Homo sapiens: one gene and its partners. The protein of the gene in region 3 interacts with the protein of the main gene of each other region in a biochemical or structural test. Each region holds a gene or a part of one and is shown on either strand. Other genes may lie near its edges.

The links.
Region 1: of the proteins of CSNK1D (region 3) and LRRK2, one has a biochemical effect on the other in vitro, tested with the Homo sapiens proteins (one study listed by IntAct).
Region 2: of the proteins of CSNK1D (region 3) and CREB1, one has a biochemical effect on the other in vitro, tested with the Homo sapiens proteins (one study listed by BioGRID).
Region 4: of the proteins of CSNK1D (region 3) and MAPT, one has a biochemical effect on the other in vitro, tested with the Homo sapiens proteins (4 studies listed by BioGRID).

The regions. Positions count from the first base shown.
Region 1 is NC_000012.12:40,220,754-40,228,740, reverse strand, and holds the start of LRRK2 (leucine-rich repeat serine/threonine-protein kinase 2), read right to left. Parts: upstream 3,745-7,987; 5' UTR 3,610-3,744; coding exon 3,459-3,609; intron 3,187-3,458; coding exon 3,101-3,186; intron 1-3,100. UniProt on the Homo sapiens protein: Serine/threonine-protein kinase which phosphorylates a broad range of proteins involved in multiple processes such as neuronal plasticity, innate immunity, autophagy, and vesicle trafficking.
Region 2 is NC_000002.12:207,574,380-207,582,446, reverse strand, and holds part of CREB1 (cyclic AMP-responsive element-binding protein 1), read right to left. Parts: intron 7,176-8,067; coding exon 6,993-7,175; intron 5,817-6,992; coding exon of another isoform or gene 5,800-5,816; exon of another isoform or gene 5,794-5,799; coding exon of another isoform or gene 5,754-5,793; exon of another isoform or gene 5,522-5,753; intron 5,338-5,521; exon of another isoform or gene 5,223-5,337; intron 4,943-5,222; coding exon 4,792-4,942; intron 2,927-4,791; coding exon of another isoform or gene 2,881-2,926; exon of another isoform or gene 626-2,880; coding exon of another isoform or gene 501-625; exon of another isoform or gene 301-500; coding exon of another isoform or gene 287-300; exon of another isoform or gene 1-286.
Region 3 is NC_000017.11:82,263,121-82,271,187, forward strand, and holds part of CSNK1D (casein kinase I isoform delta), read right to left. Parts: exon of another isoform or gene 3,605-8,067; intron 2,677-3,604; coding exon 2,566-2,676; intron 1-2,565. UniProt on the Homo sapiens protein: Essential serine/threonine-protein kinase that regulates diverse cellular growth and survival processes including Wnt signaling, DNA repair and circadian rhythms. It can phosphorylate a large number of proteins.
Region 4 is NC_000017.11:45,981,106-45,989,172, reverse strand, and holds part of MAPT (microtubule-associated protein tau), read right to left. Parts: intron 6,308-8,067; coding exon 5,243-6,307; intron 2,134-5,242; coding exon 2,078-2,133; intron 1-2,077. UniProt on the Homo sapiens protein: Promotes microtubule assembly and stability, and might be involved in the establishment and maintenance of neuronal polarity.

The DNA of each region.
Region 1 (7,987 bases), on a different chromosome or scaffold from region 3:
ATCTCAGACCTGAAAATATGCAACTACTAGAAGAAAACACTGGGGAAATGCTACAGGACATTGGTCTGTGCAATGATTTTTGGGGTAGGACCTCAAAAGCACAGGCAATTACAACAAAAATAGGCAAATGGGATTATATCAAGCTAAAAAGCTTCTGCACAACAAAGAAAATAATTAACAAAGTGAAGAGACAACATAAAGAAAGGGAGAAAATATTTGCAAAATATCCATTCAACAAAAGATTAACAACCAGAATACATAAGGAACTAAAAAAACTCAATTAGCAAAAAAAAAAAAAAAAAAAAAAGTCTTATTTTTAAATGGACAAAAGATCCAAATAGACATTTCTCAAAAGAAGACAGACAAATGGCTAACAGGTACATGAAAAAAAAATCCTAAACTTCACTAATCATTAGGGAGAGGCAAATCAAAACCATAATGAGATATTATCTCACCACAGGCAGAATGGCTATTATCAAAAAGACAAAAAATAACAAATGCTGGTAAGGATGCAGAAAAAGGGGAATGGTGGTACACTGCTGATGGGAATATAAAGTAGCACAGCCATGATGAAACACAGTATGGAGGTATCTTAAAAAACTAAAAAGAGAATTTTCATATGATCCAGTAATCTCATCGCTGGGTATATATCCAAAAAAAGAACATCAGTATATCAAAGATATATCTGAACTCCCATGTTTATTGCAGCCCTGTTCACAATAGTTAAAATACAGAATCACCTTATATGTCTATCAACAGATTAACAAAGAAAATATGGAGGCCGAGGCAGGAGGATTACTTGAGGTCAGGAGTTTGAAACTAACCTGGGCAACATAGCAAGACTCCATCTCTACAAAAAGTAAAAAAAGAAAAAAAAATTAGCTGAGCATGGTGGCACATGCTTATAGTCCTAGCTACCTGGGAGGCTGAGGCAGGAGGACTACTTCAGCCCAGGATTGCAGGCCTGCAGTGAGCTTTGATCACACCACTGCTCTCCAGTCTGGGCAACAGAGTGAGACCCTGTCTCTAAATTAATTACTTAACTAAAAATAAAAGAAAATGTGGTATACATACACAATGGAATATTATTCAGTCATAAAAAATGAAATCCTGTCATTTGCAACAGCATGGGTGGGACTGGAGGTCATTAGGTTAAATTAAATAAGCCAGGTACAGAAATAAAATATTGCATAATCTCACTCATATGTAGGAGCGGAAAAGGTGGATCTCATGGAGGAAGAGAGTAGAATGGTGGTTACCAGAGACTGGAAATGAAAGGATGGGGAGGGATAAAGAGAAGGTGGTTAATGTGTACAAAAATATAATTAGATACAAGCAATTAAGTTAATATTTAATAGTATAGCAGGGAAATTATGGTTAATAATTCATTGCATATTTTAAAATAGCTAGAAGAAAGAAATTGCAACGTTGCCAACACAAAGAAAAATGTTCGAGGTGACGGATATTCCAGTTACCCTGATTTGAACATTACACATTGTATACATGTATCAAATAGCATATGTATCCCCAAAATATATACAACTATGATATATCCAAAAAAGTAATTAATTACTTTTAAAAAAACTCTTCCTTATTTTCCAGCATACTTTGCCTCTGGTACTCTCTAGGCAGAAATACTAAGTGACACTCATAACTACTCCGGACAAGTATGCTCAGGCTTGGGCAATTTCTAAAATTAAGAATTAGGAAGTATGTTCCAGGCTCCCCTGGGTTGTCAAGTATAGCACTGCCTTATCTAGACCCTGCAGACCAAAACGCCTACCCAGGATCTGACTGTCCTGAGCAGTATCAAGCAGGAGTGACTCTATCAAGTACAGAGTCTAGGGAATGAAGGTGGCCAGAATCAGGCACTTCTGAACACCAAAGCAGAGACAAGTAAGAAGGGATGACGTGGGTGCAGAGCAGGAAGCACAATAGGCCAGTGCCCAAAAAGTGACTCATATTCCACAGGCAAAATTCCGACTTTGAGTCTTAAAAGAACAGCATCTTTATTATGCCTCCATCTTTTCTTGGTTTGGTTTGATAGCAGCGTGAAAATCTATAATAGTCAGATGGAAAATATTTCACAGTTGAAAACAAATTAAAATATTTCTTCCAGATGTAAATGTCCTCATATCAAAGAAGCTAGATGGTTCACCCAGACTAGATACAGCTAGATACAGAGATAAACATCAAGATAAAGATAGACCCACACCACTTTAAAGATTGAGATGCCTCATGTCTGTCAAGCCTCTCAACCATTAAGAAACATTGGCTTTCTGACTGCACCTCCAAGGAGTTCAAAGTCCAATTCTCTTTCTCTGCATGAGTTAACATGCAGATGACAAAACTGATTTCAGTTCCCCAAATCTCTAAGTGCTCCGAAGGAAGTTATCACCTTGGCCTATAATTTTGTTTTGACTGTAAATCATTCTTAATTACCATTTTTAAGGCCCCCTTTAAAAAAAAATCCAAGATACATAGCAAATTTCTGGGTTTCCTATGGTACAGATTGTAAAAGTTTCACTTCTACATGCATTTTATATGACAACAGTTGCAAACTATGAGGGTCTCATAAGACATCACTTTCTTTAGATACTACAAGGTATACTACAACTAAAGGCTAGAAATCTTTGAATTTTAAAAAGTGCTGAACTCTACAAGAGTTTGCTAGTGACAAAGTTGCATTTTATCACTATTAATTATTCCCCTTTTCCAAACTATTCATAATCTTCTCATCTAGGACATGCTCTGTATTGGGAAGATACTTGGAATAGTCAAGTCTAAACACTAATGAATTCATCTTGCCAATAACGAGACTAAAACCGAACCCATTTTTATCCTCCTTCTACCACCATCCATACTGTTGGTTTTATAAAGTTACTTCTTAAAGACACTCAGGGAACACATACTGGGGCTCTTCATCCCGTTTACATTGCGTAATGATTTAACAATATTCCCATCTTAAAATCACAGTCAGAGGTTCCTCAAGCCAAATTTTGGGAATAACCAAGAACTCTCGGCTATATTAACATTGCCAGTAAAACGTCTCCTTCCAAACAGAAGGGAGAATGAGTTGAAGTGAAAACAATGCCTTTACCTGCTGCACACTCGCGACTCTCATATAGGAGTCCAAGACGATCAACAGAGGCACATGGATATTTTTGCCTTGAAATAACTTGGAGGCTGGAAAACAAGTGGGTGGGGAAAAGAAGCAAAGTCACAATCCACAGCACCCCCTCTCCTTTTTAGTCTGAAACGGGGAGAAAAGTCAAAAAGGTGAAGACCTTCCTGAAATTCTCAGCTGCTTTCTGCCCTAAGGAAAGGATATGGGAGTTTGCGGCTCCTTAAGAGTCCGGGTTTGAGCAGGGTCAAGGGGAGGAGGACAAAATTTGCAAATGTAAGGAGGGGGAGAAAGTTTGCAAAAATAAAAGCACAGTTTATTTTCAAGTGATTACCGCGCTCGGAGTACGTGAACACCAGCAGATCCTCCAGGATTTGGACCAGCGTTTCTATCTGTTTTCCTTCCTGGACATTGTTCAGCCTGACTATCAACTTCTTCAGAGTTTCCTCGTCCTCTTCGCACCCCTGACAGCTGCCACTAGCCATGGTGGCACCTGCTTCCAACCCGCCGCCCTCCCAGCATGAACGTCCGCTGCTCAGGGAACCGGCAGGGGCGCCGGCCACAGCTCCCCGGGGGCGAGCTCAGCTCACCGCCCGCAGCCAGCGCTCCCCGCGGGCCCCATCGGCGCCCACGCCCGCCTGTTTATGAGGAAGGAGGCAGCTCCCCGCCCCGCGTTGCCCTCCCTCTCCGGAGCCCTCCTGCTCGGCTTCCTCCTCCCCCACTCAGGCCCCAAAAACGAGCTCAGGGGCCTGCCAGAGGCTCCGCCGAGGCGACGGGCCGCGCAGAACTCTGGCGGCGGCCGTGGGGCTGCTGGAGCCGGGCCTGGCTGGGATGACCGTGACCGTGGCCCCCACGCACGCCTAGACCGGACCCCGGGCGGACGCCGCCTCCTGGGACCAGATTCCACCGCAGCGGCGGCGCGGCCGGGAGTCGCGCGGGAAGAAACTGACTCAGCGGACTCCGCTGAGTCCACAGGCCCGGAGCCCCGCAGCGGAGGCGCGCAGTGCGCAGCCCGGCCGGCCACCCTCCGCGACCCGCCAGCCGGGGATCCTGCGGCCCCACGGAAGGTCTGGGAACTGGGAGCAGGAAAAATGAAAGCCGCCTATCTCCAGATCTAAGAATAGAAATCAGGGCGCTGGGAAAAGAGGACACCGCCCAGATGGCCCCTTTTAGGAATACATTGTCTTTAGAGTTCCACCTATAGGGAGATGAGCAATTTTCCCCCAAAGGATGGAAAGAGGGGTTAGCCATCAAAACTGCCCCCGCTACTCTTTTTTATGATTTTTTGTGACTGTTAGTGGGAGAGGAAATAAACATTGTTTCCCTGTGAGTTATCTGAAGCTCTGGTCACCAAAAGGCCACTAAATTAACTTTTGGAAATTTGAGTTGCACTAGGCAGGATCCTGATACTTGGGACACCCGAAAAGTAATCAGCTCTCAGAGCTATTAGAGCTGAGACAAAGGACAGGGTACATGAAATGAAAGGTGAAAAGTTGAGAGAAGCAAACCTAAATACTCTTCTCTTGGTATTCAGAAATACTTATGAGTATGGGTGTCTATAACCCCAAAGTTTTTTGGTTTTGTCTTTTGATTGTTTGTTTGTTTGTTCTGTTAAGTACCTAAGTAATGTGTTTTTAGGAAAAGAAACCTAGCAAGAACATTGTAGACAAGGCTAGGCAAAGATGATCTATCCTTCAGGTGATGTGTCTGTCCTCAAGATCACTTACAAAGAAGAGGATTGGACTGGAAGTTACTACTTCACAATTTTAGTTTTGTTTTCACATCTGTTACTTCAATCCTGATGACAATTCTGAAATGGATACAACTACTACTATGTATCCTTCTTTCACTAGTGAGGAAATTGAGATTTGGAATTGAGAAGTGAAGAGCTTTGCTGGAGTCACACAGGTGGGAAGTTGAGAGCCAGGACTTCAACCCAGCAAATCTCCTAACTCCAGGTAGAAGGTTCTTCATGCTCTACCACTTTAATAAGAATGCTCTAGACTTTGTTAATACATTAGATTAGTAAGATAGCAAACTCCTACTCAACCTGGATATTGGGTCTATGTCTTGTTGTTATAGAGTCTTTAACTTTTACAGAGACATGCTAAAATATTTATAGTTGAAATGGTTAGGATTTCTTTCAAAGTCATCCAGTGGTGGAGGAAAAGATGAAATGTGTGGAGATAGAGATAACGATAACAACTTTTGAATTGATAATTGTTGAAGATAATATGAGATGGGTTCATGTGGTCTGTTCTACTATTGTATCTATATAAAATTTTCCATAATTTAACAAAAAACTCCCAATCTTACAATATTTATCAGACCTACAGTGTATTATTTTCTAAGTTGTTTCTAAACTTGTTTCCATTTCTGATGACTTAATCAATGTCTCAAACATTTCTAGGCATTCTCCATCTCATGCATTCCTTCTGTTCCTCTGCATTAGTTTCTCCCTTCCTGTTCTACTGAATTACAACCTTGCAAGAAATTAAAACCTACCTCCCTTCCAAAGAAAAATAAATCTAAATTAAAAGATGTCTCCTAATTTCCACAATTCATTCATCCATCTATTGCCTATTTATTATCTACTCTATATTGGCCAGACTGTGAGTAGACAGTGTGAAAATATGAATTATTTGTTGGGAGCATTCTCCCATGAACTACTGCAGTGTTAAGGTAAAGTATTCTCTTAGTTTTCAAAAATGTTTAATTGATTGACTGAAATTCCAAGATTTATCAACTCTTCAAGTAGTTAACAAGACTGAAAATGAAGATTAAGGCATGAATTTATGATGGAAGCAGGGTTCAGTGGAGAATAAAATGGTGCTAGAACATTTGGCTAATTTCCTGAAAAGAAAAAAAATAAAACTGACATTACTAATTACAGCAAACATCAAATAGATTAAAAAGTTAAATAAAAATAACTTCAAAAATAAAATATAAATTAATAGTTATATAATCTTGAAAAAGGAAACATAAAAACAAAAAAGAAATCACATAAGGGTAGTATATGTGACTCCATCAAATTTAAATTTTCTGCAGTCAAAGAAAAAATACCCAATAATGAAACTAGAAGTCAAACGGCAAACAGGAAGAAAAAATTTGAAATACATATGATGAAATACAATTTGCCTTCAACTTTCAAAAGTTCTTACAAATCACTGGGAGGAGGGTATTACGCCACAGATAGACCAGGAAAAAAAATAATAAACTAAGGTTTTGAAAAGGAAATTCATTTTGAATGACCAATAAGTATTTTTTAATGTCATCATTATAAAAAAAATGTGTTCCTAAACATGAGTGATGCACAAGCATAAAGTGCAATTGTGTGTGTGTGTGTGTATGATGACAATGAAAGGGAAACCTTGAAAATAAATTAACAAATATTTACAAAACCTTTATGAATAAATTATTGAACTCTGTTAAAAGGCATTAAAAAGGCATGAATAAATATTAATATCACATTAATTAATGGGAAAACTAAATTCAAAAATATGTCAATTCTCTACAAAGTAATAAAAAACAATGCAAGATTAGTGAAATTCTCAACAAGATTTACATAGATTTCAGCAAGATCAAAAGGCCTAGTATAGACTAGACACTTTTGAAGAAGGACAAGATGGGAGAATTGCCATCTTGTCCTTTTGGATGTCCAATTGACATCCATTCAGAGTATGTAGTAGCCTTTCTCTATCAATTTCTGAAGAAGGAAAAAGTACCCCTAGGATGAAAGCGGGGAGCCCTGAAAGCACATAGTTTACCCAGCAGGCAGTCTTTCTATGAATTAGAAAAAAGTGCCTTTTAGGTAGGCACAGCCTTATATCTGGGTGTATCAAGCAGGATTTGGATTTCAGTCTCTACCCTGGTGTTCTTATGGAGGACACAACTTATACAGTATAGGAAGCATTATACTTTTTTGAAGCTATAGAAATTAATTGGCATGTTATTGACACAGCTATACAAAGTGACCAATGAGAGTATAGAAAACCCAGAAACACATCTTCACATATATGGAAATGATATATGAGAGATGTTGCATTATGTATCAGTGGAAAAAAAAAGGGCAATTTGATAAATGAATCTGAGACCACTGTTTGTGGAAAAAGCATCAAATGATTATGCCTACCTCACACCATATTCAAAAATAAATTCCACATGGATTGAACATTTTTGTATAAAAAATGAAAACAGGCCAGGTGCAGTGGCTCATGACTGTAATCCCAGCACTTTGGGAGGCCCAGGTGGGATGATCACTTGAGCTCAGGAGTTCGAGACCAGCCTGGCCAACATGGTGAAACCCCGTCTCCACTAAAAATACAAAAATTAGCCAGGTGTGGTGGCACGTGCATGTAATCCGAGCTACTGGGGAGACCGAGCCAGGAGAATTGCTTGAACCCAGGAGGCAGAGATTGCAGTGAGCCAAGATCGCACCATTGCACTCCAGCCTGAGTGAAGAAGTGAGACTGTCTCAAAAAAAAAAAAAAATTTGAAAAAAATATAGAAAACTATCTGACATTAAGAGGGAAAGAAACAAAACAAAAATTACAGTTAAGGCCAGGTATGGTGGCTCACACCTGTAATCCAAGCACTTTGGGAAGCCGAGGTGGGAGGCTTACTTGAGGCCAAGAGTTAAGACGATCCTGGGAAACATAGAGAGACCTTGTCTCTACAAAATATTTAAAAATTAGCCAGGTATGGTAGTGCATGCCAGTAGTCCTAACTTCTCAGGAAGCTTGAGGCAAGGGGATCACTTGATTCCAGGAGTTATAGGTTACACTGAGCTACAATTGTGACACTGCACTCCAGCTTGAGGGACAGAGCAAGGCCCTGTCTCTAAACTAAAAAAAAATAAAATAA
Region 2 (8,067 bases), on a different chromosome or scaffold from region 3:
TGTATTGATAAAATAAATAATGTGGAGAAGAAACAAATCTTGTTTATAGAATTCAGTTGTTAAATATATTAGAAGGGATGGAGATATACAAAATTCCCATTAGAATAGCAAATAGTAATAATTACTGTAGACAAGATTTACTGATGAATTCTAAAACTGGTGGGCAAAACTTTAAAGAGAAAAGAATATATCTGCATAGCCTCCAAGTACTTCTTCTAAAATACACCTAATTACTGTGGTGGTTTTAACATATGACCACAAATTTCTTTCATATTCTCCCTTTTAGGAGGTGGAATTTAATTCTCCTCCCCTTGAATATGGGCTGGACAAAGAGAAAAATGGTAGCTCAACAGTGGAGACACCTGGACAGCACTTTAACCAAGTGATCAAAGTTAATATCGCCAATTATGTATGTGCTCCCGGATGTGATGTTATGAGAAAGGCACACTATACCTCTGTGGAATTCCTCCCCAAAACCTATTATCTCAATCTATCCATAGAAAACACTGGACAAATGCAAACTGAGGGATATTCTAAAAGAAAACAGATCACTACTCTTCAAAAGTTACAAGGCCATCAAAGACAAGGAAACAAACTTTCACAGACTGAAGGAGACTATAATTAAATGCGATATGGTACCCAAACTGGATTATGTAAGTAAAAAAACTGGGGAAATAAAATGTATAATTCAGTTAATGGTATTATACCAATGTACTTTTATTTTTGATAAATGTACCCTGGTTATGTAATATACTAAGATTAGAGAAAGCTGGATGAAGGGTATCCGGAACTCTGTATTTTTAAAACTCCTTTGTAAGTTTAAAATTACTTAAAAATATATTAAAAATGTATATTTACCTTTGTACTGGTTTGAGTAAAAAAACTGACTTTAGAATGTTAACATTTTAGATGGTGAAATTAGAAGTAATTCAATTTTTAGGTAATGTTTCTTAATTTACTTATAATGAACATGTTTTACTTGTGTAATAATAAATTTAAAAAACCTGATAGTAATGTAAATACTCTTTGGTAACCTGCTTTTGTCCGAGAACATCTTCCCATCTTAATAAAAATACACCTTTATTTACTCTTAATGGCTAGTTGTATATAGTTGAATGGATATATTTTAATTCATATCAAATACATTTTAATTTTTTTAGAATTTTTCAAATTTTTTACCCTATCCATTTTCTAAGAATCTGCCTATTTATATCCCTCAACTCATTAGTCTTCTGACATTATTTGTTAAAATGTTTGCTACTTTATCTTTTACTTTCCTAAATAGGGGGTTTATAGTTTTATATGGTCAAATCCATTTAACCTTTTCCTTTGTTACTTCTGCCTTTAGGGAATCTGCTTTTAAAATCCCCCTACAATGTAAAGTTACATAAAGGCAAAGGTGATAGATTGTATTACTTTCACAATTTTTCACTCTCCACTTCCTGTAGGAAGAGTTCATTCCCACTCCACTGACTTTGGGCTTGTCCTTGCCTGTGCTGTGGCTAACAGATCACGAGTAGATGTAACGTTCACCAAAATCAAGCAAATGCTTTCAAAAGCATTGCCCTTTTCTCAAAGACGTGCTGCTCTATCTAGCCCAGGATCCTAGACCCAGATGGGCACATGAAGGAGAGCCACAGCAACTGACCTGCAGCTGCCAAAATGTAACAGAAGTGAGGAAGAAATTTTAAGACACTGAGATTCGTGGTTGTTACTGTAGCAACACAAATTAACAGAAGAGCTGTCTACACTTTCTTTTAGAATGTTTACCACTTACCTTCATCTTGAAATAAATGGCAATTTGGATAGTGATGAATTTTTTGGATTACAATCTTTTCCTATCAAACTTTAAGATAGGCTGTGTTTGATGTGCATAAGGGAAATTCATCCTAGTGAGCATGCTTAGGAGTGTGCTTCTCTTAACTTTTCCACTGAAATAGCCACACTAGAAGAGGAAACCAAATATGGAGACTCTGGGGGTGCAGCAAAACCACTGCTGGTATAAATTTCTTTTAAAACTCTTATTTTACCTTAAAAATAAGGTTTATTTCTCTCAAATATTTTAGCAAAATGAACATTCAAGGAAAGCACTCCACGTTCACCTCCTTAGGCTACACATCCCTAGCATACTGCCATGTGCTCTGGTTTGAGAGGCACAGCAGAAGATGGCTGCATACTGGAATCAGTGAAGTAGCATGTTTACAGGTTTTGGTGCCAGATATGGGTTCAAATTTCAGTTCTACTAATCTCATAAAGTGTGTGACCTTTGGCAAAATATTTGAATTTTCTGATATTTACCTTCTCCTCCTCTAAAGTGGGGATAAGCTTCTACCTCACTGTAGGTAGAATTAATAAAATAATATATACTGGAGCTTAATAAATAGCACTCGGCAGAAAGGTCAAAGCCAGAATATACAGAATTAAGAAGTATCAGCATATAAAGTAATGCCTGAAATACATGGGTATGGATGAAGGTTCAAAGGAAAAATTTGAAAAGTAGCCAGAAAACCAGGTGAAGTAAGCCAAGGAAGAGTTTAGAGTAATGAGAAGTCGAAAGTGTCAAATACTCCATAGAGTTAAAATTAAATGAAAGAAAATACTAGATTTGCCAAGTGGGAGGGAATTTGTACCTTTTTATAGACATATGAGCGGTATGCTAGTCATAGAAGCCAGATTCCAGTGAATGGAGGCTGAAAAAGTAAAAGCAGCAGTAATCTGGTAACAAAGGGGAAAAGGAACTATGGCAGAATCAATGAGAAGTTTCCTTTTTAAAGAGTAGGGTAACTATATCTAAGCAAAGTAATGTTATGAAAGAGTCCATGGTAAGTCGGGTAGTTTCCCTGAAGATCTCAGGCAAGCAAAGCCTGGTAGGAACTGTAGTTATGTGTGCCCTGTTCCTAACTTGTTGGTGGCAGTGGTCATAAATCTGAAAGAAAAATAAATAGAACAAAAAGGAAATTTGGTCTGCCAGTCAACGGGGGTAAACATTTTGTTCCACACAGCCAAACTACATAGACATAAACAGAAGTCCTTCTGTTGTTTTTTATAATCAAAAGGATTTATTTTTTGATTCTGCTCCTATGTTTGCTTTGAACTCTTTTCTTTAGTAAGCAGTGTTGTCTTAAATATTACTACTCAGCCTGTGCTTGAGACTTCTTGATCAGACTTGCTTCTAATTTTAAGTTAAAGGTTTCCTTATAAACATTTTTAAAAACTGAAAATATTTTAATTTTTATTTACAGATTTTAATTTATATTTTAAAATATATTTGAATTATGAATGCAGCTTTTATGCTTCTCTTTAGTAAAACTTAAATACTCAAAATCACAGATGGATGGAGCACAAATAAAAGTCACTTGAGGGCTGGGCACCATGGCTCATACCTGTAATCCCAGCACTTTGGAAGTCCGAGGAGGGTGGATCACAAGGTCAAGAGTTCGAGACCAGCCTGGCCAAAATAGTGAAATCATGTCTCTACTAATACAAAAATTAGCCAGGCGTGGTGGTGGGCACCTGTAATCCCAGCTACTCGGGAGGTTGAGGCAGGAGAATTGCTTGAACCCAGGAGGTGGAGGCTGCAGTGAGCTGAGATTGCACCATTGCACTCCTGCCTGGGTGACAGAGCAAGACTTCATCTCGGGAGAAAAAAAAAAAGTCACTTGGCTTGTTTCCAACTCTTTTTCTAATATCCCAGAAAAATCTCTGCCATTTCTCAGAGTTTAGATATAATTTACTAACATTGTGACAGCTAAGAATATTTTAGGAACAAAAAAGCTGATCTGAGCTGTGAAATTGCACACACACACACAAACCCATTTCAACAGAGCACTACAGTTACAAAGTGCTTTCAAAGGATTCTCTTACTTGACTCTTACAACAATACTTTGGGTGTGTGCTGGAATCCCATTTTACAAAACTGAGGTACAGAAGGTTAATACCTTCTCCCAAAATGGAGGGATAGGGCTAGGACTTGGAAGCCCTGCTTCTTTCACTTTATCAGTGTTTGAAGTATCCTGGGATGAACAGTGAGATACTTTCACTAATTTCAAACTTTTTAAACCTTTACATAACCTTATTTTCATTTTCTTTTGTTTGTCTCGGTCACTTCTATATGAAAGTTCTAAACCAATATTTAGTAACTTATTTTTATTGTTTTTGACGGCAAAATCATTTACAGCAATAAAGTTACTTTCTGAGAATTGCTTTACCAACATTTCACAGATTTTGAATGTAGTATTTTTTTGAAGACTATATTTTAAGATTTTTGTCCGTAACATGGTATTCTTAGAATTAACATATTTTTGAAGAATCTTTAGGTGTTAAAATGTTATTATTTTGAGTAAAGATATTATTCATTAAAACATGAACTGGCCACCATACATTTACTTTATATCAAGTAAATTTAATATAGATAAAATTTAACACACAGTTAATATACATATATGAAACTCTTGATCTTCTTGAACAATACTATACATGAAAAGAAACCATTTTTAAATAACCTGGCTAACTGGTTGGAGTGCAGACATAGGGAAGTTGTGCATTAAATCTCCTGTGGGGAAACTGCATGAAAGAAAACTACTCCACGATCAAAGATTGACCCATAATCATACAGCTATCTTATAAGTGCAGCTTATTAAATAAAGAAAATTTAGCAAGATCCATTAATTCTGCTGGAAAAAAAAAATTCAATGCAAAGATCCTATTACCAGTAGATGTAAAGATACACATCCAGCAGAATGTGAAGACACACTTAACACATAACAATCTAAGTAAATGCAGTATTTGTACCTGTTCTTCATTAGACGGACCTCTCTCTTTCGTGCTGCTTCTTCAGCAGGCTGTGTAGGAAGTGCTGGGGAGGATGCCATAACAACTCCAGGGGCAATAGTGCTAGTGGGTGCTGTGCGAATCTGGTATGTTTGTACGTCTCCAGAGGCAGCTGAAAAAAACAGTGAGCATGGTGTAAGACAGAAACATTGCAACTTGATTCAATTATGTGTATCAATCATCAATCTAAGCATGTATTTTGGACTAAAAGGGAAACAAAAAAGAAAAGATGATTCTGGCTAAAGCGTTGAAAGAATCAGCACTCTTCGCGCCACTACTAAGAAATAATTCCCAATGTAATGTATTTATTACAGTAACCTATGTCCGCTGGATCTTACATTTTATTTTTCATTTGAATGCAGTTCTATTCTGTTGTTAACATGCTTACCAACCTTAAGTCTAAAAGGTAAGTGGGGCACAGCTTGGATGATCTTCCTAGATAGAGTATAGTCCTCAGTGTCTTCCTTTGATATTGGTAAATTCATATTAAAAAATTTCAAGTAGACTCTTGCCACGACATAAAAACGACCATGATTTTTCATAAAATAGCAAAATGAAAAAGAAGATAAAGCATTATGGTCAACTATTATAAATTTTGAATTAAAACAAAACTAAAAGTATGAAAAAGTGTATCACTTGATGCCAATTATATTATTTGAAAAACATATTGTTTTAATGTAAATGATAATGGCTAAATAAACTGAAGTTTTATTTTTCTAACTGATTCACCATTTGTAAAAACAAACACAATCACTATTTGTCAAACTGCTTCTAAAAACAGCGTAATAATATGCTCTCCTAATAAGGAACCTAATGTTACTTAAAAAAATTTGAAGGTCTTTATAAAATTATTCATATTAATTATTAATATCAATTAAAATGTATGGTTTGAGTGGAAAAGATTTATATACTAAACATGTTACCATCTTCAAACTGACGTTCAGAATTCAAATTCACTGACATCCTGCTTTACAATTTTTGAGTACCTGCATGTAAAGTGAAAAGGTGTTTTACTCTCATCAATAAGCAAAATAGTATCTTTTTCAAATACTCGTTTAATAACAGAATATATTCTGTAAACATTAGGGCTCTTTAAATAAGTTATGACTCTCTCCAGTTGGTGTTTCAGGATTATTCAATTATCCATGGTGAAAGGATACAACTGTCATTACCTAACACAGGCAAAATGCATTATTATTTATAAAAATATTTTCAGAAACAAATTTATTATTATTTCCTCAATCAGCAAATTTCTAACCTGGCATTAACTATATTCTTGAAATATTCAAACAAATCCAAAGAAAAATGGTTAACTGCTATCCATAAAGATTCCTGAAATAAACAGAAAAAAAAAACTAAAAAAAAAAAAAAAAAAGCCAAAAAAAGCAACTTCTATAATTTGTCGAGAATTTAACAACTACTTTTTCTCTAAAGAGCAGCAGATTTGCATATTGGTATAAGATCCTGTGGAATATAATGTTTTCATTTGAAACAAAAACTGAGTCAAGTGCAGAGGCATCCCAACACTTTGGGAGCCTGAGAAAGGAGGATTGCTTGAGGCCCGGAGTTCAAGACTAGCCTGGGCAACACAGTGAGACCATGTCTCTAGAAAAAAATAATAATAATAATAATAAAAACTGATGATCTCAGAAGATTTAAATTTCTTTTGGGGGGGGGGGGGGAAGCAGAGAAACAGAATCCTGAACTTCTGAAGATTGTTTCCAGAGATTCAGTGCAACTCTTATTTTACAGATGAAAAAACAAAAACAACAACAACAAAAAACAAAACACTTTCCTGAGGCTCAGAGCAGCTGACTTTTACTCAAGGCCTCATAGCAGATCCATGCAGTTAGATACAGAATCCATCTTTTCTAACTCCTGATTTCCTGGTCTTTCCTTCTAACCTATCCTGTTTCTTCTACCCCAAAAGATGTTAAAGGTAGATGCAATATTTTAAAAACTGAAAATAGTTGTTTTTATGCCATGACATTTTGGTCCAATTGGAATAATGGAAGAGTTCATGAAAAATACTATCAATATTGAAGAAATGTTAACTACATTTGAATGGTGGTTTGCAATATGATACTTACTTTTTCTGTGAGTTTATAAAATTTTAGTATTTTGAAGAATTTACCACACCTGTGAATTCTGAATTCCCTTACCTTGAACAACAACTTGGTTGCTGGGCACTAAGATCTGCTGTCCATCAGTGGTCTGTGCATACTGTAGAATGGTAGTACCCGGCTGAGTGGCTGCTGCATTGGTCATGGTTAATGTTTGCAGGCCCTGTACCCCATCGGTACCATTGTTAGCCAGCTGTATTGCTCCTCCCTGGGTAATGGCAACTAAAAGCCAATGGATTTTATTGTTACAAGTTTAATACCATATAAGACTTTTAAAACATTACATCCAATGTAGAATAATTTGTAAAATAATCTAGGAGAAGTTACAGCAAATAACATCACCAAGAAGGGTCTAATATATTCAAGTAACTTGCTCCTCAGGAAACCCATATTCAACTTCTACAATAGAAATGCACTCTATGAACTGCATTCTAATTTATAATAATAATGCCTGTTAACAATTTTTTTAAGTGGAAAAATGTTAAATTCCTTCTGAAGTTATTTGGTTCTGAAGAGGTTCCACTCTGTGATCCTTTCTTTTATTTTAGCATTAACTGCATAATGTATTAATACTTGTCCCACTAGTAAATAAATTTCTGGAGAGTAGGAATTTTCTTATATACTTTCATACACTTAGCACAGTGGCAGCCATGAAATAGGCACCCAATAAATGGTTGTTTTAACATATAACTAATAAAGCAGTTCATCAGTGCATTGTATTCCCTAACTCTTGTAGAAATTCTTTAATGGTATCTAATCCACTCAATGAAACAACTGAAATATCCTATGGAACTTAATTATCAACAGTCTCTCATGGAATTTTAAAATCAGAGCTCAAGATCATCATTTAGAAAAAAAACTTTAACTGTCATTTCTAAATTATTTAATACATATCCAAGCATTCTCATATAGAACCCTTTGTTGTTTATGCCCTAATTAGCCACACCTGTCATTCATTTGTTAAACAATAAATCAGTCAACTTTTGCTCATACTAGTAGATATTTCACTTTATGAAAAACTAAATCACCTTTATGCTACAGTACATAGAAAAATTTAATTTAAAAATTAGATGATTTATTTGGAAGAAGCATTTTTAGATAGGTGGCAATATCC
Region 3 (8,067 bases):
AGTGGGCCAAGATTGCGCCATTGCACTCCATCCTGGGCAACGGAGTGAGACTCTGTCTCCAAACAAAAACAAAAAACAAAAAACAAAAACAAAAACCAAAACCTTGACAGTATCCACCAGGTGTCTGTGCATTTAACACAGAAGACCTGACCTACATTTTGGAATGGTCAGGGACATGGCAATGCGCTCGAAGCCCAAATGGGAGAAAAACCATTTCTGAAATCCTATTTGGTTTCCAGGATCCTAGAGAAGGTGCCATGGGCAGGAACATGAAGGTGCAGGCTTCTTTACTCTCTTAAGCCAGCGGCCACAGGGGAAGCAACTTTGCCTGCCAGGGGCCTTCAGCACTGTCTGAAGAAAGTTTTGAGTATCACAACTAGGGGCAGGGGTGCTGCCAACATCTACCATGCAGAGAACGCACCACTACAAATGGCACTAGTGCCGAGTGGAGAAGTCCTGTCCGGAACCACGTAGCACTTTTTGGTTCAGGGTTGGCTTCCCCAGTGACCATCCCGGGCTTCTAAGGACTGGCTTTCTTCCCTTTGCCCTTGTGTACCCCTGGCTTGCAAGTTCTCCTGGAGACATCTCTCGTAAAAACTTAAGGTGTTTTTAAGCTTGCAGGTTTTACTTGACCCCAGCACCAGGCTCCCGCAGGCCAAGGCCACACCCCGCACCACCCTGCTCTATTGGCTCGTCACACCTTCAAGGCAATGCAGGCTCCAGGCCCTTGAGAAGCCAGTCCACCACCAAGGGCCGCCAGACAGGCTCCCAGGGCGGAGTCTCTGCTGAGCTTTCCCTGGGTTGGTGATGGGATTTTTCATTCCTGTGGCCTCCTCTGGTCACGTGAGGCCCGTGATGGGACACACTGGGTGCCCCTCTCTGTAACGGGTTCCCCAGGACCACAGGTGCTGCCAAAGATATTTTGTGTCACATAAACTTAGAAACGTCGGTTTCTTGTAGTAGCACAGATTACGTGCTTGTGCTGAGAAAAGATGTCAAAGAATCAAATCAACAGTCCTCCCTTTCCCGTGACAAAAGGGCTAACAGAGGCCCTGAACAGGTTTTCCTTTGGCCAGTTGCCCAAGGGGACTCACCCAACCATCCACCTACAAATGTGCCGCGGAGCCTTCTCACTGGGAGGGCTCCACAGACGTGGCACAGCCACTCTTCAGACAAAAAGCTCTGTTCCCAAAGAGGGCTCCTGCCAGACCGAAGCTCTGCTGTTGAGACACACGCTTCATGGCTCTGAAATCCCCGCAGAGAATACCCTCCTGCTCCATCAGCCCAACTGTTTGAAAGTCCAGGGAACTCGCAAGAGCTGGACTCTGAGGGGAGGACAGGAGCGCTCTGCTCCACACCTGGCCCACCGTGGAACACCAGGTACCTAAGGCCCTGGGCTGAGGGCTCGCAGAACTGGGACAGTAACTGAGCTGGAAGAGGTCATGATGGTCGCCAAGTTCAAAACCCTTGTTTTGCTCGGAGAAAACGAGCCCAGAGAGTATGAAGGGACTTCCCCCAAGCTATAAGCAAAGCATGCGAAGGAGCAGAGGCCTCACTCAGGGATCACACATCAGGAAGGCCCCACTGAGCAACACACGTGCCACTGGCAACAGCTCCAGTGACCACTGAGGGGCACACGACACCACGGGGAGCATGCATTGAAATTCACACAAAATCTTTTTTTTTTTTTTTTTTGAGACGGAGTCTCGCTCTTTCATCCAGGCTGGACTGCAGTGGCGCTATCTGGGCTCACTGCAAGCTCTGCCTCCCGGGTTCACGCCATTCTCCTGCCTCAGCCTCCCAAGTAGCTGGGACTACAGGCGCCCGCCACCACGAACGGCTAACTTTTTTTGTATTTTTAGTAGAGACGGGGTTTCACTGTGTTAGCCAGGATGGTCTCGAGCTCCTGACCTCGTGATCCGCCTGCCTCGGCCTCCCAAAGTGCTGGGATTACAGGTGTGAGCCACTGCGTCTGGCCTATTCACACACACTCTTGATTTCAGAAACCATGACCCAATATGAAGCAAAATTTAAACAAAAGGACAAGATGGTATAAGATTTTTTTTTTTTTTGGGGGGGACAGGGTCTCACTCTGTCGCCCAGGCTGGAGTGCAGTGGCGTGATCTCGGCTCACCGCAACCTCTGCCTCCCAGACTCAGGCGATTCTCCTGCCTCAGCCTCCCAAACAGCTGGGATTACAGGTGCACGCCATCACACTTGGCTAATTTTTGTATTTTTAGTAGAGACGGGGTTTCACTACGTTGGCCAGGCTAGTCTCAAACTACTGACCTCAAATGATCCACCCATCTTGGCCTCCCAAAGTGCTGGGATTCCAGGCGTGAGCCACCATGCCCGGCCCATAAGATGTTTCTTTGTGTTGAGGGAGGGTCTCTGGACCCAAGACTCTCTGAAGGAAGCTGTGACTGCTTTGTCAGGGTGTGGAGAACACTTCCCTCCCTTTTGCCCAGAACCAGTTTTGGGTTTATTTTAACCAGCAATGCTGAGTTGCTGTTCTCCCTTGTCAAACAGAACCCTGGTGTTGCTCTGTGACTGGTAAAGACCTACCTCCTCCCTGCATCATCTTGTAGATTTTGCTCTCAATGTGGAGCTGAGGGTGTTTGGTTTTGACACATTCAAGCTTGATGGCAACCTCTTCTCCTGCAGCAATGTCCGTACCTTGGCAAAGAAAGAAAACCACAACAGGAATTACCTGGTATCCACCAAATAACCCAACATGCTGGAGAAACAACAAGCACTATGTGTTTTCCATGAAGGACCAAGTGAGGGATGTGTTCTCCTTCCTAGCATAGTAAGGCGGGCTAATCGGCTGACACATCTCTGGGGGAAGTTATCCATATTCCCATTTTCACAACAGGACGAATTTGAACTGCACAGAAAGTTTATGTGGCTTCCATCACCCGCCCACCAGTCTTCAGGTGCTGCAGCTCCCTCTCCACAGTGGCCCTTCTGGTCTGCATCCTCCCATCAGCCCTGCCCAAGGCCCCTGCACTTGCCCGCCCCAGACAGCCTGTGGTAGAGCTCCACGGTGCCATTCCCTTTTCTCCATGCTGCCTGATAGGCCTCCGAGGGGGTGGTTTGAGTTTCCCCCTGAGGAAGGGCTAGGTTTTTACCCAATAGCCACAGTCCCAGTCCACCCAGGCCTGGCATCACAGGCAGCGGGAGTCATCTCTAGCCAACCTATTGCAGGCAAACACCCTCCACCAGGCGGAGGGAGGCCCTTCTCCCTTCCTGGGGACACAAAGCCAGAAGAATCGCCTGTTTTCAACGCCCTAAATGTACCACCTACCAACACGCACCGGTCACACATCTTTCATCAGTCTATGGCTAAAACCAATGACACATCTAATACCATGACGATCGGACTATGAGTTTGGAGGCAAAATTACACTTTTTATCTAGAAATGTTCCATCTCTGCTTTACTCCAATAAATGACAAATGTGACAACCACCATCCCTCTCAGGTTCACCCACAAATGCTCCTGAGTTTGAATCTGGCCCAAAGCCTTCCCCAAATCCACTGCATGAGGCATCCAAGGAGCTTTAACCGAACAGGAGAGAAAAAGAAGCTGCACACAGTACATACCCAGCTCTCTCCTCTTCCCTCACGAGTCCCTTCAGAGTATAAGACACTGGAATCGGCCGGGCGCGGTGGCTCACGCCTGTAATCCCAGCACTTTGGGAGGCCAAGGCGGGCGGATCACAAGGTCAGGAGATTGAGACCATCCTGGCTAACACGGTGAAACCCCATCTCTACTAAAAATACAAAAAATTAGCTGGGCATGGTGGTGGGTACCTGTGGTCCCAGCTACTTGGGAGCCTGAGGCAGGAGAATGGCGTGAACCTGGGAGGCGGAGCTTGCAGTGAGCCGAGATCGCGCCACTGCACTCCAGCCTGGGTGACAGAGCGAGACACCGTCTCAAAAAAAAAAAAAAAAAAAAAAGGACACTGGATCCTTCCCAACAGCGTGGCTATGTGGAAAAGAATTCACACTAGCTTCAGCAGCCCAGACAAAGCCCTGGGAGACTTCCTTCCCTGAGAGACTGTGGTGCTGGGCAAAGCAACTTGGCTAGTTCTTAGTGACTCGGTTTCTCTTGTCAATGGAGATCAGTGGTGAGGTCTGACGTCTGTTTCATGAGAGTTGTGGAGATGAATGGGTTAACAGTTTCTTTTACTGCTCTTTAAGATAAGGTTCCCTGATGAAAAGCAGAGTAAGGTCAAGTGAGCACTAGAGCAGTCTGCTGATATCCACACGTCCACTGAACACCCAGGAAGCCCCTCGTCTGCCCAGATGGCGGCATGAGATGTGCCACTTCCAGCCTGGGCCCCAAACCCCTTGCCACTGCTGCGTTCCACAGGAATCGCCACCACCGGGTCACCGCCAGTGACCATTCTAGATTTAAGAACGTCACTTACTATCAACAGAGACTCTTCAGAGTACTCGAGGTAACAAATTTTGTTCTTCCTGCCTACAGTTGGGACAGTCTATCCAATTACAAGAGAAATGACTTCATCGAAAAATGTACTGTGTAAATGAAAAACCACTCTGAGTTCCTCTAAGGACCTGGACTCTGAACTCAACTCGCCAGCCGGGAGGGAGGGTGACTCATCCCACTAGTTATGTCAGCAGCTCCCTGCACCCCCAAGCAGGCGCAGTGCAGCCTCGGACAGTACCGCCACCCTCGCCAGCTGGCAGCCCAGTGACCCCATGGCCTGGGGCCGATGGCTTGGGGCCACACAGTCTGCTGACTAGCATCTCTCACTCCACTTCTCTGTAGCTGATAAAGCTAATGTCTGCCAGTCACACCTGCAGCACTGACTGTCGTGGGGCAAAAGTCATCACCAGCCGCTCTGGCACACAACACGAATCACACCCTATCATGGGGCCGGGACCTCTCGCTGTGCAAGCACACAGATGTGCAAGCACACAGAGCCAGCCCTCCTGTGGAACCGACACCAAGGTCGCCCCGAGTCTCTACAGGGGAGTAGCTGGATGCAGGTCCTGTACACAGATGTGAGGATGGCAACTCTCTGGGGCCTGCAGCAGGGACCTCGTCACCTGCTGGGCAGAAGCATCAAGAAGCAGAACACCAAGGTCTGTGCATTCCAAAGGCACCACCTGCCTCAAGGTCGCTGAGCACTGCTCAGACCCCCTGGCCTGCAGCCCTGTCCCACCTCGCCCACCGGGGGCACCCCCACACTCTACCAGCCATGCTGCTGAAAGTCAGATCCTCAAGCTGCCATCAGTGCACAAGGCAGCACAGAGGCGCTCAGTAACTGTGGCTGCAATCTGGCATCGCTGCAGCATTTTGACCTTATACACAAGTTTTGGCATGCAACAGGTTGAAAATTACAAGCCTGGTTCTTCACCACAGGTTAAATCCGAGAAGCACTACTAGAAGGGGAATGAGAATTTGAAAGACCCTGAGCCCTGGGTGTCAGATTCAAAACAAACCAAAACCTGGTGACACGCAGATCACCAGGTTGTCTGGGTTGTCTGTTTATACAAAAGACATTCTGTCAACAAAACAAATTCAACTCTTCCCTGCAGCTCAACAATCCTGGTCTGCTGTGAGACAGGGCTTTCCTCAGTCCGTGTTTGGGTATCAGTTAATGTTAGTCCTACAAAAACAAAATTACGTCCCTCAAGTTCAGCAGCCAAAAGCAGATGGTGGCCGGGTGTGGTGGTTCACGCCTGTAATCCCAGCACTTTGGGAGGCTGAGGCTGATGGATCGCTTGAGGTCAGGCATTCGAGACCAGCCTGGCCCACATGGTGAAACCCCGTCCCTACTATAAATACAAAAAAAATTAGCCAGGCATGCTGGTGTGCGCCTCTAACCCCAGCTACTCAGGAGGTTGATGCGGAAGAACTGCTTGAACCCAGAAGGCAGGGGTTGCAGTGAGCTGAGATCGCGCCACTGCACCCCAGCCTAGGCAACAGAATGATACTTTGTCTTAAAAAAAAAAAAAAAAAAAAAAAGCAGATGGTGAGTTAAGCGAACCTAACCAGAGTGTGGCCCTGTCCTGGCACAGGAGGGTAATTCTGAATTACCAGCCTGGATGCTGGCAACTCCCATTAAGGATTGTCTTGTCAACAAAAAAAACAGGGAGACGCCTTGAGCAGCAGGACAAAGGTCAACTCGCAGGGCAGCGGTCAGCAGTACCACGACTTCTCATTACAGATGCTTGAGTTAAGGAGAGTCCAAGGTCAACAGAGGCTACAGCCCTAACACTGCAGTGAGGAGACCCCAGAAGCTACAGGAAGAACAGGTGGTCGCTCTCCTCTCATGGCTGGTCAGCATCTTGGGGCCCTATTGCATACCAGGCACCCTGCAGGCTGCCTCTTGAGAAATCAGTCAGTGAGGGGAAAAACGTGTGCTTCAGAGATGAAGCAGTTAGCTCCCAAAAGATGCTTGTGCACATTATGAAGTCAGTCCATCCAGGTAACAGGTGGACAAATGGAGGCCCTGACAAGCTGATGGTGCGATGGGATCAAGTACAGATGCCAACAGATTCATCTGTCCAGCCCACCAGCCAGGTAATCCAGTCCTGCCACTAACCTCCAGAACACACTACAGGTGAGAACAGAGGCAGGACCAGCTGGGCTCTCACTGCCTCTCTGCATGGGCCGCCTGCGGGGTGAACACAGCAGGCCTCTCCCTCTAGCCTAGCCCAGCTGAACAGTCCTCTTCCGCCAGACACCCCTGTGGTTCTGGGGCTGGGAACTCATGGTCCACATTAAGGACACTGGCTGTTTTCAAATGTTACCAAGTTTATTTCCAGTGGTACTCTGCCAGCATAAGTGAAAGAACTTCTGGTTTATGGCCACACCACATGGACACGGATGCGGAGGGCGGCACAGGGCCGGGGCCAGGTCACACAACAGGCTGCCAAGGTGTGCGCTCCACAGGTGTGTGTGGGCTGTGTCACCTTCCCAACCTGCCCTCCTGAAGGGCCTTGCGGATCTGGCAATCTCAGACTGAAGACAGATTGTTCTTTTTGGGGTCCCACTTTCCAAAGCCTGGGCATTCAAGAAATAGCCCCAAAATACTGCCCCCTTTGAAGGGGCAATTTTGGAACACGACAACCTGGCAGGGCCCTGCAGTGAGCACCCGCCCTCCAACTGTCACAGCAGGGTCGGGGCAGGCAGGCCCACACCACGCTTCTAGCCCACAGGCACTCCACTGAAGCACAGCCTTCCCCCCTTCCTGGTCTCAAACATCTGAAAGCACAGAAAGTCCCCGGTAGAAAAACAAGAACCCAAAAGCCAAGCTCAAAGCAAGGTGAACCCCACCTGGAGGATACCAAAGTGACAACAGTAGGAATGGTCTTAACGATACTCATACTAGAATATACACGACACACAGAGGTCAAGATGAAGACCTAGTTCCTCGATTTATGTGTAACTGGCTGCCCAAACAAAACTATGGTGGGGATGACCGATCCATCTCATAGTCTTCAGATCAGCCATCTTTGACTCTAACTGCCATTCTGCTCAGACCCACGCTTCTTTCAAACTGCCTTACTCCGGCTAACGTGACCACCTCGCCTTTCCTCCGTGGGGTCGTCTGAAAGGACCACAGTGTAGGCTAGGAGCCAATGCTGATGGGAAAAAAAAAAATCAGCTGTGCCTAACCCCACTCAAGTAACTGGACGTGTACCCTGATGGGTGGCTGTCTGGGACGGCTGTCTGGGGGCTCCAACCCCAGGGTGTCAGAGCCACAGCCGCCCGCAATCCCGTATCCAGCATGACTGTATGCCCAGCGCGAGGTGAGGCCTGGAGGGTAGAATGCTGAGTGAGGAGACAGCCTTCCACCCTCCACCTCTGGAATTACTTGGTGACAACCACACCAAAATTTGTCTTAATCTATCTTTGGAAAGCACAAAGTTGTTTGACAAGGTCTCAGATCAGAGAACAGATAGTTTCAAAGTACTTCTTATTTATTTATTTTTTGAGACAGAGTCTCACTCCATCGCCCAGGCTGCAGTGCAGTGGTGTGATCTTGGCTCACTGCAACCTCCGCCTCCCAGGTTCAAGCAATTCTCGT
Region 4 (8,067 bases), about 36 Mb from region 3:
CACGGGGTCTGAAGGGCCTTACTTTCTACTCAATTCCAGGCAAGGTGCTTTTTTACCTGCCCATTAACCCATGGCCTCTTCCACCACACTGACAGACTCATATGGCTACAATCAGGAGTGTGCCCCCCCCAAGTTGGAAAGATTCTACCTGACTTAGGTTACACCCACCCCCACCACACATGTGCTTTCTGATTAAAGTCTCAAATCAAACTAATATTAACACTATCTGGTGAATCCTAATCTGGCCAATGTTAACTCTTTTGTTTGTTTGTTTGTTTGTTTGTTTTAGAGACAGGGTCTCCCTCTGTTGCCCTGGCTGGAGTGCAGTGGTGCCATCACGGCTCACTGCAGCCTCCACCCTTTGGGTTCAAGTGATCCTCCCACCTCTGCCTGGCCAATTAAATTTTTTTTTTGAGATGGGGTCTTGCTATGTTGCCCAGGCTGGTCTAGAACTCTTGGGCTGGGGACATCCTCCCACCTTAGCCTCCCAAAGTGCTGGGATTACAGGCATGAGCCACTGTGCCAAGCCTCCAATGTTATCTCTTTTTCTTTTTTTTTCAGTTTGTCAGTGTAAACAACACTGCTTACTTTTGAACCCATTCCACAAGAGGAAGCAGCCAGGGACGGGTGTCTGCACGCCTGTCCCTATGGAGGCGGGGCTGGGGGGGGCCCTGGAACCAGGATGCAGGATAGATGGTGACTGACACCCACAGTTCGTCCTGCCCGTGGGGGATTTTGACGGGTGGGCATGGCCCTGGAGGAGAAGGGGGTGTTTGGAGGGGAACAGGTCACACTCTCGGGAAACAAAGTGGGGAGGCTAAGCCTCGAAGTGTTTCCAAGAGCAAGTCAGAGCTCAGAGAAGGGTCCTGTCCCAGACTTCACTGGGCTTCTAGGGGATGCTATCTTATTGCTTTCCAATTCCCCATGGAAGCGGCCAAGGCCCTCTGTGTGGTCAGGCTTGGTAAGGAGGACCCAGGAGATGAAGTAGCAATGGGAGAGGAGGGACACAGGCTGGGGCCCTGGGGCTGATGACAAGAAAGCAAAGCTGGGGTGGGGGTATTGACGACTCCTCCTTCCCTCGCTGCACACGGCCCCTCTCCACCAGCAGCACTCCCCAGCTGGCCGAGGCCCAGGGTAATAGATCTTTCCCCTCCCTAGACTCTGGGCAACTCCAGGGCAGGGATGTTGTACCCATGTGTACTGAATGAATGAATGAAGGAAGGAACAAATGAATGCATGCATGCATGAGGCTGGTATTCCCTGCCCCCTGCCCCCAGCACTAAATGTGCACCGTGATTGACAAGCAGCTGTCACTATCACTTCAGAGACCCAGGCCAGCTCTCCAAATCCCCACAGGCCCTTCCACTGCCTCACTAGATGAGGCTGGGGAGCCCTGACTCTGCAGGCACTTCCGGGAGCAGCCCTCAACACACCACTGAATGCTCAGAGCTATGTGGCAACTGGAGATGCCCTCCGGGCTCCAGTACTGATTAAAATTCAGGTGTTTCAGACAGAATTTATGCTGGAAATTTTAGATACCTTTAAGAAAAATAGGTCTTATCTAGAGCCATGGTGGGATTTTCCAGGAAAAACGCCACTGTGCAATTACGGGAGCATTTCCCCAGACATTTCCCCAGTCATTGAGACAGTAAACAATGGGTGAAGTGAAATACTGAGAAGGATGGGCGAAGATCTGGGTGCAGTTTATGCAGTGAGAAGATGGCTTCATTTACTGTCCTAGGGCTGGTTTTCAAACACACCTTCATTTACTGTCCTGGGTTTGGTTTTCAAACACACCTTCATTTACTGTCAGGGTCTCACTGAAAGTACACTAAGAAAGCTGGAATTAGGAGCATGACTTCATGAACCTGCCAACTGCTCTTCCCTGGGGTAAGTATCAAAACTAATAAATGCTGGACTTTTTAAAAGCCTGCCCCAAAATACAAAGCACTTTAAATGACAGCTGTACTTTAGTGACAAATACTCCCCACATTATATATGAGAATGAATCAGACATAAAGCACAGCTTCTCTGTAAACTTGACCAGCTGCAGAGCTCCGTGGCATCGTCAGCTTACCTTGGCTTTTTTGTCATCGCTTCCAGTCCCGTCTTTGCTTTTACTGACCATGCGAGCTGATAAAATATAAAATAAGAATGCTTGTCACACTCCATTTTCACTGTTCACAGAAAGCCAGCTGTGGTGAAGCTGGATTTCTCTGGGATAGGTCCATGTTTGTTTAGTTGGGTCTGGTGGAAACCCAGTTGGTTCTCTTTTCCCTTGAATCTGCTAGGCCTCGCATTGTTAGTATCAACACAGCACACTGGGGTCACTGATTAGCGCAACCTGGCAAGAGGGGGCAGCAGGCTGGCCGAGGGTGGGACCATGCAGAGGGGACGCAGCAGAAACTGTCACGGGGACATGATGGCATGGAGGCTATCTAAGGAAGGTGCAGTCTCCCTAACCCACAGGCTCCTGCCCTGTTTCTGCCAGGGTCAGCCTCACCCCACTGGGACCAGCCCCACTCCATGGATGGGTGTTTTAAAAGCCTCAGGGCCATGGATGTTGGTAGCTCAGTGAGGACCCAGCCTCCTGCAAGATCCAAGGATGGGGGTGGGTGCATTGTCTCCACACTGCAGCCAGGCTTGGCCCTGATTCCCTGTGAGGTGCCTGCTCACCCTCTTGGCCTTGGAAACTGCCTGGAACCACCCGGCTCCCCTGCCCATGTGGCTAGATTGCCAGCAGTCCTGATTTCCACCTTCCTGGCCATCTTATGCTGACCAACCCATCTCCATTTCTGGTCACACGCCTCCAGAATAGGAGAGGCTGGCAGGGTTGTCTTTGTCCCCTAGTTGCTGGTTGTACCCCCAGGGCCTGCCCCTCACTAATGGTGGCTTTGGCCACCAGCCCCAGCTGCTCTGAGACGAGCCAAGCCCAGCCCAGCCCTGAGCCAGGCCTGGTGGGTTTCTTGCCACTTACTGGTCTTCAAAGGGCACGAATTCTCACTGCTTCCCCAAATTAGCTACAAACCAGTTACCATCATACATTCCCACAGACAACATCAGCCTTCATCACACTCCTTGGTGAAACCAACCCGCTGACCTGTCAGCCAGCATCAGCGCTAACTCACCCTTCTCCTTCTCTTGACAGTCACTGCTGAAAACTGATCATAGATTTTCTTCTTTGGTTTCAATATCACATTCCCTCTACCCCATGGACAACTGGGTCTCTTGGAGCTTCTCATTGGCTATTGTCACCTGGATTTCTAGAGGGACCAGCAATGAGTATGCCCAGAGGTTTTCCAACTATACTATGTGGCAGAATCACCTGCTAAAAGACTCCCAGGCTTACCCCACAACTGGGTCTGTAAGCCTAAAGTGGCACCTGGGAACCTGCACTTTAGTAAGAGCCCCAGGCGGATCTGACTCACGTGTTCTTTGTTTTGCCCACATCAACCAGCACCATCCACGGCACAACAAAAGAATCTGCTAAATCGGCATTTCCCAAACTTCCTCCAGGAAATGTTAGCAGGTAGAATCAAGTAAGTTTGGGAAACCCACTCTGTGACCTTCTCAGAGGGTCACAATGGCCATTAGTACATTAAAGGCTCTGACAAGTCCTGCAGCAGAAAAGCCTGTTTAACTTACTTTAGTCTTTTATTTTTTTCCCCCAGTCACTGGGCCATGGAACTCTTTTTTAATCCAAACACACCTATGAACCTCTAGTAGGCCAGTATTCAAGAAAACATCATTTCAGGAAATATTGTAGTAACCTGTCAAGTCAGTTATTTGTCCCCTACTGTTTTGGAATTTAACAAAGGATATAGGATATATTTTTTTCTCTCTTAACTTTATTTTATTTTATTTTTTGAGACAGAGTCTCACTCTGTCGCCCAGGCTTAGGGTACAGTGGTGTGATCTTGGCTCACTGTAACCTCTGCCTCCTGGGTTCAAGCACTTATCCTGCTTCAGCCTCCCCAGTAGCTGGGACTACAGGTGCCCGCCACCACGCCCAGCTAATTTTTTGTAATTTTAGTAGAGACAGGGTCTCACCATGTTGGCCAGGCTGGTCTCGAACTCCTAACCTCAAATGATCCACCTGCCTTGGCCTCCCAAAGTGCTGAGATTACAGGCGTGAGCCATCGCCCCCAGCCTCTGTCTTAACTTTTAAACACAGGCTTCTTTATAGCATTTCAAAGTTTTCCCTAAAAGTAAAATCTAATAAAAATTTAACAGATGCTTGCAACTGTGAGCTTCAGTAACATCCATTTCTGGGCTCTGCAAATAACTGTGAAATGCTAAGGGTCCCAAATTTATGAACAAGCTCGCCTTGTGGCTCTGAGGTCTCCTGTGGGACACCAACTCTCCTCTCCCTGATACTTGGGACTCTCCTCCCACCAATCCCTCCCTGCAGGGCTGCTGTGGTCGTGCTCCTGAGGGCTCAAGGTGGGCCCTGCTCAACCCCCTCCAATGCCAGCATGAGGATCCCCTTGTCCTCTGCAGAGGGAGGTGGTGGCATGTGGACCAGGGAGATCTTGTGTCTGCTCCTTGTCTTCCTGCCACAAGGCAGAGTGGGTGGGGGCAGGGCACTGGGCCAAAGGCACAGCATGAGCTCTGGGCCACCTCTGGATGCTGTGTGTGTCACCTGCTGTGTGTGCCCTGCACATCTCTGTGTTAGGCGTCCACACTCCAGCACCTCCTGGGAGGCGTTGTGGGATGCAGGACAGGCGTGTCTTTCAGAGACAACCTACCTGGATCCCAAACCTGGCTCTGTCACTTACTACTCATTGGCCTTCGGCAAGTTACTGTACTTCTCTGAGCCTCCGTTTCCTCATCTGCAAAGTGGGGCTGCTTATGCCTACATGGGAGGGTTGGAGAGTTCTAGACACCATGAGGGCACCCGTCATCCTGTCGGTGGAAGGCACCCACCAAACCTCCTGTGGGCTGATGGGCCGTTGTGGACAAATCAAGTGGCCAGAGAGTCAAACAAGGTGGGTAGCACGGAGCGGGGGTGCTGGTGACATGCAGAGTGGCGGGCAAGCGTGAGGGGCGCGTGCGGCCACAGCCTGAGCACGGGAGGAGGCCGAGGGAGTGGAGCAGCTGCACCCAGGTGTCGATTTAGTGGCGTCCTAGGAACGTCAGAAGCAGCAGGAGTCGGGAGGCCTGGAAGCTCAGTGGCAGTGCCCGCAGCCTGGGAGGCCTGGGAGGTCCCCAGGGAAGGAGCGAAGAAGCTCAAGACACAGACCTTTGAGTTGAGGGACCCGGCTGACGGGCTTCCCCCGCGGAGCAGCAGCAGGCTGCTTTTCAGAGGGCTCTGGAAGGTCAGCCTCTTTTGTGTCCTCTCCCAAAGAGGGGCCCCGGGCCTCTGGCCCCTCTCCAGGGGCCCCTGGAAATGCAGCCCTTCCCAAATGCTCCTCCGAGTGCGCCTGCTCCTTCTGCACGTTGGGTGTGATTTCCACGTGAAACGTGAACTCCAGGGGGGCATCCTGCCCTTTGGCCCGCCCTACACTGGGCCCGTCGGGCTCTGAGGCTGGGATCTCTGTGGAAACTTTGGAGAGGAAATCCACAGGGAGGGGGATGGCACCCTCCGCTGGGAAGCCTGGGATGCTGGTGGCTTCTCTGGCGGCTGTCTGGGGAGGCCGCCCATCTTGGGCTGGGGAGGCCTTGGAGGGAGGGGAGTCTTGGGGGGAGGACTCATCGACGTCGCGGTCTTCATCCACCTCCTCCTTGCTCCCCGGCCTCTCTTTGCCCCCTGCCCCCTTCAGCGGCGGCCCCTCCTGGTGCAGGTCTCCTAGAAGCTGGTGCTTGAGCAGCTCAGGGGCGTGGCGGCCGCCCTCTGTGTCCTCAGGTCCTGTCCCCGAAGGTTGGCGTGTGGCCTCTCTGGGGCCCTCAGGCAGGAGGGGAGCCCCAGGCATGCCGGACATGAGCTGGTGGCTCAGACCTGGGGGGCCTGGCTCTCGGAGGAAGCCTTCCTGGACCACCTTACCACTTTCAGGCTCTGTGTGGAGATACGCAGTGGTGGCGGGCTTCGGAAAGGCCGGACCCTTCTCGGCCCAGTCCCCGCCTTTTTGTCCCCACTCCAGGGAGGGCTCCTGAGGGCCTCCTGTTGGAGGAGGCGCTGGGCAAACGGGACGGTGCTGAGGAAGGCTCGCGGTCAGCGGGACGGGAGCTTCTGGCTCTTTCTCCCCGAGGCACGGCCCAGAGACCCCAGAGGCCTCTCCGCAGGGTCCAGGCTGGACGTGGGCGCTAATCTCATTGGCCAGGGGCCTTTCAGGCGCCTTCCTCTGCCGGCCCGGAACTCTCAACTCCTCTGGTTTGAAGAGGCAGCGATAGCAAAAGGTTAGCAAGGGCGCATTAATCGCTTAAGAGAGGGAGCATCATCCTGGACAAAATGACACTGAGAGGGCATCCCAGGCCCCCTAACAAAGAGATGGGAGCACAGCTCTGGGCTCGTCTCGTTGCCTTTGCTTGCTTGGAATGACAGCTCTCCTGGTCTAGCCGCCACCAGCTCGCTAGGTGGCTCTCCCCTCTCTGGGCCTCAGTTTCCTCATCTGTAAAGAGGGTTCTTGGACGTGGTGACCTCCGAGGGCCCTTCTGGTGTGGGTGTTATTCCTCTGCCTATGATGGGCTCTGGTTGGGCACAGAGCATGTCACACATCTGGAGCCGCCCTGGGCTTAATCTACTGGGAAAGCGGGAGGGCTACAGAAGCTTCTCCTGCTTTCTAGGGAATTTGAGCCTCCCAAAGATTCTAGCCTCTAGATGGTATCTGGTTTGGGTGTAGCGAGAATCCCCTTTCCTCTCCCTACCTCTCACTGTTCTCCTGCCCCCGCCCCCCACCCCTTTTTTTTGGTTTGAGACAGAGTCTCACTCTGTCGCCCAGGCTGGAGTACAGTGGCACGATCTCAGCTCACTGCAACCTCTGACTCCCTGGTTCAAGCGATTCTCCTGCCTCAGCCTCCCGAGTAACTGGGATTACAGGCACGTGCCACCACACCTGGCTAATTTTTGTATTTTTAGTAGAAACGGGGTTTCACCATGTTGGCCAGGATAGTCTTGATCTCCTGACCTCGTGATCTGCCCACCCCGGTCCCCAAAGTGCTGGGATTACAGGCATGAGTTTTTTTTTTCCTTTCTTTCTTTCTTTTTTTTTTTTTTTGAGACAGGGTCTCGTTCTGTCACCCAGGCTAGAGTGCAGTGGTGCAATCACAGCTCATTGCAACTTTAACTCCAGGGCTCAAACAACCCTCCCATCTCACCCTCCCAAGCAGCTGGGACCACAGATGCATGCCACCACGTCTGACTAAAATGTTATTTTTCATTTTTGTGGAGACGGGGTCTCCTTATGTTGCTCAGGCTGGTCTCGAACTCCTGGGCTCAAGCAATTCTCTTGCCTCTGGGATTACAGGGATGAGCCACCATACTTGACTTCTGCTCCCCTTTTTGGTAAATGAAACCAGTGAAACTAGTGCCCACAAACCCCGCCTCAAGCCCATTCTCTGACAGATTTGGAAAATCCAAAATGTGTGATCATCAAGAATGGAGTCTTTACTGAGAGACCTGCCATAAGACTCCTCGAAAAAGAAGCCCCATTCAGATCTATCCAGGTCACTGACCACAGACAAGCCCTTGGCACAGGTGAGGTAGGCCCCCGTGGGAGGAAGGGCTCTGCACGGCAGACAGTGACGGCCCTCAGGACCACTGCTGTCCCCTGGTCACACAGCTTGCTGCACACCAACCCAGCTGATCAAGGGCACACTTCATTTTTTTCTGGTTCATTCACGTGACATTCATTAACCTGGCCGCATATTAAGAACAGGAGAATTACACTCCTTGGTTCTCCTAATAAATACCCTTTATGTTTTTTAACTCCCAACTCTTTGAACACCCCATCTAGTCCCAATGCAACAACCTATGCAACTCACCAGCTCTGCTTTAAACAAAACCTGCAGCCCTGAAGGATTCAGGGGCTTGGAAAAGAAAGAGATTTGGATGAGGTCGGGGAGGAAGGTGTGGTCATGGACACACAAAGGTAACCTGTGGGCCCGACCCCATCGGAGGCAAGGTGGTTG